Linked DNA regions of Homo sapiens. The protein of the gene in region 1 purifies or fractionates together with the protein of each later gene. This does not show direct contact. Each region holds a gene or a part of one and is shown in the gene's direction. Other genes may lie near its edges. The genes, in order: SNX11, PML and STK40.

Region 1 (3,317 bases):
GAGGTTAAGGAAGGAGGATCACTTGAGGCCAGGAGTTTGAGACCAGCCTGGGCAACAGAGCAATACTGTCTCTACAGATACATAAGTAAACAAATAAATAAATTAGGTGCACACAGTGGCACGTACCGGTAGTCATAGTTATTCTGGGAGGCTGATGCAGGAGGATTACTTCATCCCAGGAATTTGAGGCTGCGGCGAGCTATGCTCACGTTTATGCTACTGCACTCCAGCCTGGGCAACCTGGAGAGAGCAGCTTGGAAAGCAATACCTTGTCTCTAAAATCAAACAGACAAAAATAATGTATCAGCATGGGTTTTATAGTCATAGATCTGGTTCTGATATGAGCTTTGCTGCTTATTAGCTGTGTAACAGTGAGACATTTACTTAACTTCTCTGATCTGAAGTGAGTTAATATCTTTCTCACGGGGTTTTGGGATGACTAAATGAAATCATGTTTATAAAACATTTAGCACAGTCTGGCTTGACACTTGGCATGCAGTCAATGTTAGCACCACCCCTTATTAAAAGCTAATTGGGGCCAGGCACGGTGGCTCATGCCTGTAATCCCAGCACTTTGGGAGGCCGAGGCAGGCAGGGATCACGAGGTCAGATCAAGACCATCCTGGCTAACATGGTGAAACCCCGTCTCTATTAAAAATACAAAAAATTAGCTGGGTGTGGTGGCCTGCACCTGTAATCCCAGTTACTCGGGAGGCTGAGGCAGAGAACTGCTTGAACCCGGGAGGCAGACGTTGCAGTAAGCCGAGATTGTACCACTGCACTTCAGCCTGGGCGACAGAGCGAGACTCCATCTCAAAAAAAAAAAAAAAAGCTATTTGTATTGATTAGACCTCTTTTTAAGGGATTTCCTTGATCAGAGGCCGGAATGACTATCTTAGATGTTACACTTATCATGGGTGTTATATCATGTGGCTGCACAGGCCTGTTCCTGAACTTCCTGGGAAGTCAACCTTCTTCGGCACCTCAGATGAGTTCATTGAGAAGCGACGACAAGGTCTGCAGCACTTCCTTGAAAAGTGAGTGGACAGAACGGCTGGTGCTGGCCACCAAGGGTGGAGGCAGGGGTGGAGGAATGTGCCAGGCAGGATGGAGCTCCCTGCTCAGGTAGCCAGAAGTTCTTAAGAGGATGGGGAATGGAGAGCAGTTCCTCAGGGTGATGCTCTGTGTTGTGCTACCTGTGTTTTTCCCAGGGTCCTGCAGAGTGTGGTTCTCCTGTCAGACAGCCAGTTGCACCTATTCCTGCAAAGCCAGCTCTCGGTGCCTGAGATAGAAGCCTGTGTCCAGGGCCGAAGTACCATGACTGTGTCTGATGCCATTCTTCGATATGCTATGTCAAACTGTGGCTGGGCCCAGGAAGAGAGGCAGAGCTCTTCTCACCTGGCTAAAGGAGACCAGCCTAAGAGGTAACTGGAGTACTCTTTGAGATAGCAGGGGCTAGGTTTGCTATAACCTGGACCAGAGAGGTGTCCATTTGTTAGGGAAAGTAATGTCATAGCATTGGTAGCCTTTCACAACCTTTCTTGTTCTTTGGGTGCGTGGCTTTCTATCCAGGTGGGTCTGTGTTAACCCACCACTGGGTAGCAGGGGCTCCTACTGAAACCTGGGGAGAAAGAAGGGAAAGCTTTCTCATTTATTCGGTTTTTTATTCCTCCTCCCTCCCTTTTTATTTATTTATTTTTTTGTGTGGAGACGGACGCTCACTCTTTCACCCAGGCTGGAGTGCAGTGGCGTGATCTCGGCTCACTGCAACCTCTGCCTCCTGGGTTCAAGCGATTCTCCTGCCTCAGCTTCCTGAGTAGCTGGGATTACAGGCAAGTGCCACCACACCTGGCTAAGTTTTGTATTTTTAGTAGAGACGGGATTTTGCCATGTTGGCCAGGCTGGTCTCAAACACCTGACCTTAGGTGATCCGCCTGCCTCTGCCTCCCAAAGTGCTAGGATTATTGGCATAAGCCTGGCCTAATAGCTTTATTGACACACAATTTACCTGCCATAAAGTTTACCTTTTTAGATACAGTTCAGTAGTTTTTAATATAGTCACAGGGTTGTATAACTGTCAGCCACCACAGTCAATTTTAGAACATTTTCATCACCCCGAAAGAAACCCTGTACCCATGAGTAGTGACTCCCCTGTCCTTCCCTCCCCCCCAGCTCCTGGCAACCACTAGTCTACTTTCTCTGTCTATGCATTTGTCTATTTTGGACATTTACACAAATGGAGTCATATGATTTGTGGTCTTTTGTAACTGGCTTTTTTCATCTAACAATGTTTTCAAGGTTCATTTGTATTTTATCATGTGTCATTACTTCATTACTGTTTTTTTCTCTTTTTTTCCCCCATTTTTATGGCTAAATAGCAGTCCATTTATATGGTGCTATATACCACATTTTGTTTATCCATTCACTTGCATTTATCTGTTTTTTTTTTTTTTTTTTTTTTTGAGACAGAGTCTTGCTCTGTTACCCAGGCTGGAATGCAGTGGCATGATCTCGGCTCACTGCAACCTCCGCCTCCCAGGTTCAAGCAACTCTTCTGCCTCAGCCTCCCTAGTAGCTGGGATTACAGGCACCTGCCACCACACCCAGCTAAGTTTTTGTATTTTTAGTAGAGATAGGGTTTCACCATGTTGGCCAGGCTGGTCTCGAACTCCTGACCTCAGGTGATCCACCCGTTTCAGCCTCCCAAAGTGCTGGGATTACAGGTGTGAGCCATCGCACCTGGCCTTTTTTTTTTTTTTTTTTTTGAGATGGAGTCTTGCTCTGTTGCCCAGGCTGGAGTGCAGTGGCACGATTCAGCTCACTGCAAGCTCTGCCTCCCGGGTTCACACCATTCTCCTGCCTCAGCCTCCCGAGTAGCTGGGACTACAGGCGCCCGCCACCATGCCCGGCTAATTTTTTTTGTATTTTTAGTAGAGACGGGGTTTCACCGTGTTAGCCAGGATGGCCTCCATCTCCTGACCTCGTGATCTGCCCACCTCGGTCTCCCAAAGTGCTGGGATTACAGGCGTGAGCCACCACGCCCGGCCTCTTTTTTATTTTTTTAAATTGAGATAGGGTTTCACCAGGTTACCCAGGTTGGTCTCCACCTCCCAGACTCAAATAATTCACCATGCCCAGCCATTTTTTTTTTTTTTAATCGGGCAGCCTCCTGAGTCAGAACAGGCTCAGAGAGACTTCCCTTTCTGTTCATTTTTGTTTATATGTTCATACTTTTTTTTCTGAGACAGAGTCTCACTCTGTTGCCCAGGCTGAAGTGCAGTGGTGTAATCATAACTCACTGCAGCCTTGACCTCCAA
Region 2 (3,649 bases), on another chromosome or scaffold:
TTGTTCTCAAGCTGGCTGTACACTGGGGAGTTTTCCCAACTACAGATTCCTAGGTCCTACGCCCTGAGATTCTAATCGAATCAGTCTTGGGTGCAGCCTGGGCCTCAGTTTTTTCTTAAAGCTATGAATGCCTAACCAAAGTCAAGAACCACTGAATCGGGGGATTCATTGCATGTCTGTGGTAGAGGAATGCTGCTCATTTGTTTATAGATGTGGCAGTCTTGAATGCAGGTGACATTTTCATACCAGGGTGTAATACCGCAGAGGAGGGGAGAGGCTGGATCTTCCCTGATGTACCTCCTGGACTTTTGGAGTGTGATTACAATGCCAATCCAGCCACTTCCTCTGAGCATGCTTGGGACGACTGTTAGACCTGCTGTGTTGAGTTAGAATGCACTTGACCTGCTCAGGCCGTGAAATCTATGAGGAAGGGGAGTGAGATGGATGTAGCTCATGAGCCAGATTGCAGGTGTATCCAAGTTGCATGTATATCCTGAAAAAATCCTGGCTCTCACGAGGCTCAGCCTGAACACAGTTTTGCATTCAAAGAAACAATGTCCATTAACCAAGTATAATAAAGAAATAAATCCCAGTATTTACTTGCATCTTTTGAAAGAACATTAAAGGGAATCCAGCTCATAACCCCAGCAGCACTTCTTCAGTCCTTCTTCCCCTTTTCTTTGGCGCCTGGCATCTCTCACTGCATAGCAAAGCTTTCCCCCTTGATTCCCGGTCCTCACACGCAGGCTCAAGGCTCTGTTTCCCATCTTCTTTCTTCTGTCCCCCTTCCTTTTCTCTTCCAAGCAAATCTAAGTCTTTTCCAGTGACTGTCCCTCTCTATGCTCCCCCGACACCCAGTTATCCTAATTTGCGGAATAAGGCCAAGGTGTGGGGCCTGGGGGCAGAATGGGAGAGTCTCCCCTAGTGAGCAGGGAGGGGAGTATGTTCTGCACCAGGCCACTATGTCTGATGGCCCTGCTGGCAAACCTGAGTCTTTCAGAAAGTCTTGTTTAAATGCGTCAGCACTCCCCAGCTGTGATGCTGGAGTTTAAGGCGGAGCAGGGGAGAATTCTGGGTTTACAGCTGGCTGGAGTTCCAGTGAGACCAGCTCCATGGGTGGCCATACTTTATGGAAGTCCCCAAGGGCAAGAGGAATTTTGGAGGAAGTGAGTCAGGGCTGAAAGGTCCAGCCTCTCCTCCATTAACAAGCTTGGTGGAAAGGGGGTGTCCTTTTATTAAAGGAGACAGTAGAGGTTTCTTAGAGAAGGCAGCTCGAGTAAGTTTAGGACAAAGGACATTTCCCTGGCCCCGGGACAATGGAAGGCTCTAAAAACGAGGTTCTAGTGGCTGCCATAAATGACCCTGCTGTAACGATGGGAGGGGTGGCCTAAAGAGACAGTACTGTGGCTCTCCAGGGAGCTCTCCTCTTGGAAGAGCAGATCTGAAGGCGGGAAGACTGGTTCTAAGGCCGAGGACATTGCCCCGAGCTTTGTGGAGGCACTCAGGAACACAAAGGGGCATTTCCAGTTGGGTTTGGAGCAGGAAGAAGAACGAAAAAGAGAAAGTCCTGTGTGCCATGTCAGTGGGTGGCAGCATGGACTCAGCCTCAGCTATTGGCACCAAGGATCTGAACCAGGGAGGACCCAGAAGGGGAGCCCAGCCCCTCCACCAGCTTGTGGGAGAGCGCTGCTGCCCAGTGAAGCCTGGAGAGAGGAAACAACTGGATTCTCCCAAAGCGGGAGAAGGTGGAGTCTCCAGCCACCCAGCTACAAGCTAGGAAGACGCCTTGTAGAAGGCTCCTTACAGGGAGGAAACCGAGTTGGAAAGGCGAGACAGCAGTGTGGGCTCACCCGGAGCAAGACGTGTGAAATCAGCTTTTGACAGCGTGGCTGAATGAGGATCTGGAGATGCGAGGCGCTGGGCAGACTCTCTGACTAGATCCCTGGATATGAAGAGGCAAAGCCAGCTCTAGATGGATTCATAGTGAGTGTCTGCTTCTGACAATAACTGGCAGAAAGCTGATGAGCCTGGAGCAGGGCTGTGAAATGCAAATCCAGTGAAATCCAGCCACTCCTACAAAAACCCACCACATCTTAGGTTACTTGTGGGTGGAAACGCTTTTTCTCTCAGTTGAAGCTTGGTTGGAAGCAGATGTTTCACTTGGGCATTGGAAGGGTCTGGGGAAATGTGCTGCCTCCTAGGCCAGGGACATTAGCCAGAGGCCAGAATTAACTGAGGCTTTAGCACCAGGTGACACCAACTTCATTGAGAAGCCAGCGGCAGTCCATAAAGAGGAAAAACCCAAGGCCTGCCCTGGACTCTGTCCCAGCCATGCTCCCAATTGGCCCTGTGATCCTGTCCATGTCTCTTCCTTGCTGGTCTCTGGCTAACGTCCACAGGTGGCATTCATGGGAGGTTCCAAGTTGGTCATCAAAGACTAAACATCTGGGCTTGGCAGCTGAGCAGATGATAAGCAATTAACTCTGTATTACCATCAGAGGCTCCACCTCCCTCTGTAGTCCCAGTCCCTTGGGAAAATCTCAGAGCTGGAGCCCTTCCCTCATCCTCTGGCTCCCCACCCCATGGCTTCTCGAACAGTGTTCCCACCAGGACCTTGGGACAGGAGAGAACGCCTCACCTGAAGGACTCCCAAAACTCAGGTTTCTCTAAGCTGCTGGGGCAGATGCCAAGAGCCTCCACTGCTCTCTCACTGCCAAGGACCTGGGTGTCCACCTAGATGTGGCCTTCAGGAGGCCAAGCAGTCCTTCCCCTCGCCTTTGTGTAGGACACTGGCACCTCGGCTGACTTCGGGGACAAGAAAAGGCAGGCTCCCGACCCCTTCCAAAGAATCATCTGGGGTTCAAGATGAGGCTTCTTTCTCCCGTCCCAAGTTTTGGTGTTTCTTCTGAGTCTGCTCAGAAAGATGAAATTAGGAGCAGACATCTCAGGTCCTGCCTGCCATAGCAGATGGCTCCTTCCCTGAGCCTCCATAAGCAGCACAGCACACTCATGCACACACCCACTGGCATTTTCTCTCACACTTTCATACACTTGTGTCAACGCAGGTTCACAGCTCACACTTAACTGTGCATGCACACACAGATTTAGCACTTGGATTCATTCCCACACATGCACGTTCACAACCTGTGTGTGTCACCCTTCCTCCCCTACTCATGAGGGTGTATGCCCTGGTTCATACATGTAACCCTCACATGTGACACACCCAGTTCACACCCATTCATGCACACATACCTTCTCTTGTGCACACGTCCCCTTTCCCAGTGGTACACCCTCCTTCATGTGCACGCAGATGCTCCCAGCTATACCAGCTTGCTAGTGTTCTGCACAGGTGCTTGCCTTGGCCCTCTGAATCCCTGACGCTTGGTTTTTCTGTGTTGCAGTCCTCCCGAGAGCTGGATGACAGCAGCAGTGAGTCCAGTGACCTCCAGCTGGAAGGCCCCAGCACCCTCAGGGTCCTGGACGAGAACCTTGCTGACCCCCAAGCAGAAGACAGACCTCTGGTTTTCTTTGACCTCAAGATTGACAATGAAAGTGGGTTCTCCTGGGGCTACCCCCACCCCTTTCTAATTTAGTCTCTGAGTCCCAAAAAGAAGTGCAGGCAGAGCCATCTGCCAGGCCCAGGAGAGCT
Region 3 (3,649 bases), on another chromosome or scaffold:
CCTTTTACTTGAGTCATGGGCGCTCCAGAGTGGCAGGGTAGTGTGGTGCAGAGAGACTCACTGCTCCGTGTGTGTCCTCTGGCACACCCTCCGCTCTGGGGCCCCACTCTCACCTCGTTCAGTTGACCTGAAGGAGCTCCAGCCCACTCCAGCCCCTTCCCACCCATCATGCCAGGCTATAACTCCACTGGAGCAGTAGGCGGACCAGCTGGAGGCCTTCTCAGCAGAGCAGAGAGCTCTCAAGGAGCAGACAGGGGGAGGTGTTGGCAAGGCAGCTGCAACAACAAGTTCACCCCGCTTTGGATTTTAAAAGGATCGAAATTCGAAATCCTCTTCTGGGGTTATGTGAGGTGCTGTGGGGTCTTTTTCCTTCCTCCTTTCTTTTTGGTAGGCAAGCAACATACCAAGTTCCTAGAAAAGGAGAAAAACACTGTGGCAGCCCAGAGGGCCATAGCTAAAGCGTGACTCACTCAGAGCCGATCCTACTGACACACGTCCCCTCCCTCCGTCCCACTCTGCCATTGCCCCCTCCTGTCAGGACCAGACTAGGGGGTCTGGGACTCCCGGGGAGCCATGCACCCCCCACTTGGGTGGTGGTGGCAGGGCAGGGGAGTGTTGCCAAACCTCAGGAGGACTTGGAGCTGCCCGTGCCACTTCCTGTGGAGAGACTCCAGTGCGCCTGCCGCTCAGCCCTGCAGAGCCTCAGCTGTGCCTGCCCGTGCCCTGGCAGAGGGTGGGAAAGTCCCACCAGCAGTGTTGAGTTGAAAGCTCAGCCACACTGGCATGTGCTCTCCGGGGCCTGTTGTCACACCATGGCACCTCTCCCCTACCGCCTCCAAGACAGAGTCTTTTCCTACCAGGTGTGCCAACCATCGGAGATGAGAGGACACCAGCTTCTACTATTTGCCAGGCATTGGGCTAAGTGCCCTCCATGAGATTATCTTATCTTGCTGAATCCTAACCCAGTTCTGGAGTTTGGTGCTGGGATTTCACTGTTGTACGCATGAGGAAATTGAGGTTTAGCAAGAGATTCACAGAGCAAGGAAGTGGCAGAGCCAGGACTAGGAACCTGGCTCCCAAACCCACCGTACTTTCTCCTGAGCTGTCCTCCTCTCAGCGTCTTGAGCCTCAGAGACCCACAGGATGCATTTGCAGCTTCCGCGGCCATCTCTGACCAGGGGAGAAAACCCACAGTGCCTCTGCTCTGTGGGAACCTTCTGGACAAGAGGCCCGAGCAGCCCCATATTCAGGGCAGCGGCACTGGAGCTTCAGAGCTAGAGCAGCCCACTCCTTGACGTGCAAGTGACCCTTTGCAGTGACCCTTCACCTGTGCGATCAGGCTCTAGCCGCCTGCGGGCCACCAGTCAGACTCCTATGGCAGCTGACAGGGCGGACCTGTATAGGCGCTGGAGTTGGCGTTTCCGTGGGGAATCCAGAGGACGGGCTGGCCTTTGTTTTGCATCGAGCCCTTTGCCAGCAGAATTCCCCGAGATCACCGAGGGCTCTCAGAGCCGCCTGGATGCGGCTCCCGGGGAAATCCGCCAGCAGCCACACATGCCCTCTGCCTCTGAGAGCTGATTGTAGGGAGAGGCAGCCCAAGGCCCCCATGGAGCTCTCCTTCCTGTTGTCCTCCCAGCTTCTCCCCCTAGCTTCTCCACCCAGCCAGCCGACACAGGAGCAGGGCAGTTGGGTAGAGAGGCATCCTTCCTCACTGCCTGCCCCAGTGGGCCAGGAAACCTTTCCCAGGCCTCTTAGACAGGGCCTGCCCACCCTCCCAGCCCCCAGTGTGGTGTAAGGTGTAAGGGTCCTCTCGGGGCACTTCCTTTTGTCCACATGTGAGTTTTCTCCAAAGGATCAGAGCCCAAAGCTGCCCTGCCCCACGCCTTTCAGAGGGAGGGTCTGTGATGTTCTAGCCAGGGCAGAGTCACAAGTACGAGGTAAGGGATGAGTCAGCTTTGATGGAACAGAAGGAAAAGTCATTCGGGGCCTGGGGCCCTGCCCAGGGACACATCTGGGCATGAGGCAGCTGTCAGTTGTGTGTGCAGCTCTGGGGCCCTGCAGACCTGGTCTTGGATCCTGCTCTTCTGCTCACCAGCTGCATGACCTTGGCCAAGTCCTTTCACTTCCCTGTGCCTTTGTTGTATCATCTGAAACAGGACCGTGAGAAAATCCCCCTCATTGGCCACTGTCAGTTTCTTCCTCTGCAGTGGTTGTGGGGCCAAGTGAGAACTGACATATTCCGTGGTTCGGAGGTGGCTCGGGGCCAGCCCTTGGGTCACCTTCCAAGGTGGAGTCACTCACCTCTGCTGGACTTCCTTTTCCTCATGTGTGAATGAGGAAATTGAACTAAATCTCAGGTCACTCCCAGTCTAGAATATTACGTGAGGCTGTTTTTGAGAAATCTCTGAAAGTTGTTCTAAGCCCTAAGCTGTACCCCGAGATTCAGCCCGGGCAGCAGGTCCAGGGATGGCCTGTGCAACACTCAGATACCTGGGAGAGAAGCCGATCCCTGCTGGGACAGCTCGGCTGGTGGCCAGAAAAGTCTGGGGCCTGATTCCTCTGCTCTGCTCCCTGGAGAGGGGGTCGGGGCAGCTGCTTCACCCTCTGACGAGAAGCCTACCTCCTACTGTTCAGGATTGGGTGTTGGCCCAGTGAGGTGTGTCCTGCCTGCGTGTCTTGTGCCTGTTGCTATAGACACTGAGGTTTGTTCACTCTGTCTCCCACTCCTAGGACACATCGGATAACCATCACCAACTTCTGCCTCGGGAAGCATCTGGTGAGCGAGGGGGACCTGCTGAAGGACCAGAGAGGGAGCCCTGCCTACATCAGTCCCGACGTGCTCAGCGGTACGTGTGTGTGCCAGACATTGGGCCTCTAAGCTCAATACAGCCAGGCTCTGTGACAGTCCACTCAGCAAATTTGTGGGCAGGCCCTGGGCAAGGTGCTGGGGCTTCACTGGGGGCCCAGACCAGTACTGTCCCTCCCCATACAAAATGTTTGGTCTGTTGGAGGTGGAAGACGTAATGATAACATGAATGCATGTTTAATTCCTCTGAGGTTAGTGCTAGGGAGGAACGGGATTGCTGTGAGAGTGGATGAAGGGTGCTTGGAGGACTTTCCCCACAAGGTGTGACAGTTGAGCTATGATCTTAAGGGAAACTAGGAATTCCCTGGGTATGTGTGACTAGGCTGAGGCTGAGGGTCCCAGAGGCAGCACAGCACGTTGGAGCAATTGCAGGCTGCTCAGAAAGTGAGCCTGGTTCAAGGGGAAGCCAGAGAGGTGCGCAGGGGCCAGATCAGGCAAGGCCTGACATAGGCCTCAGTAAGAGATGTCATCCTTTACTTCAAGTGCGAGTGGAAGCCATTGAACAGTTCTTAACTGAGTGTGCTGCTGTGAGTTTGTGTTTCAGAGCCCTCTCTCCTTGTCTGTGTTCATTCATTCTGTTACTGTTTGCTGAGGGCCACCCAGGCCCAAAGCTCTGTTCTAGACACTTTGGAGACAACAGGGAACAAAGTAGACAAACATTGCTGCCTTCATGGAGCTGACTTTCTAGTGGGGATGAGACAGATAATACACGAAACAAATAAGTAACTCACAGGCCGGGTGCAGTGGCTCATGCCTGTAATCCCAACACTTTGGGAGGCTGTG

Evidence for each region.
Region 2: the proteins of SNX11 (region 1) and PML purify together in Homo sapiens (affinity purification with mass spectrometry; 4 studies listed by BioGRID and IntAct, with this or other methods). This does not show direct contact.
Region 3: the proteins of SNX11 (region 1) and STK40 purify together in Homo sapiens (affinity purification with mass spectrometry; 3 studies listed by BioGRID and IntAct, with this or other methods). This does not show direct contact.

The regions. Positions count from the first base shown.
Region 1 is NC_000017.11:48,117,763-48,121,079, forward strand, and holds part of SNX11 (sorting nexin-11), read left to right. Parts: intron 1-941; coding exon 942-1,037; intron 1,038-1,211; coding exon 1,212-1,424; intron 1,425-3,317. UniProt on the Homo sapiens protein: Phosphoinositide-binding protein involved in protein sorting and membrane trafficking in endosomes. Regulates the levels of TRPV3 by promoting its trafficking from the cell membrane to lysosome for degradation.
Region 2 is NC_000015.10:74,039,588-74,043,236, forward strand, and holds part of PML (protein PML), read left to right. Parts: intron 1-3,401; coding exon 3,402-3,552; coding exon of another isoform or gene 3,553-3,593; exon of another isoform or gene 3,594-3,649.
Region 3 is NC_000001.11:36,347,897-36,351,545, reverse strand, and holds part of STK40 (serine/threonine-protein kinase 40), read left to right. Parts: intron 1-2,730; coding exon 2,731-2,846; intron 2,847-3,649. UniProt on the Homo sapiens protein: May be a negative regulator of NF-kappa-B and p53-mediated gene transcription.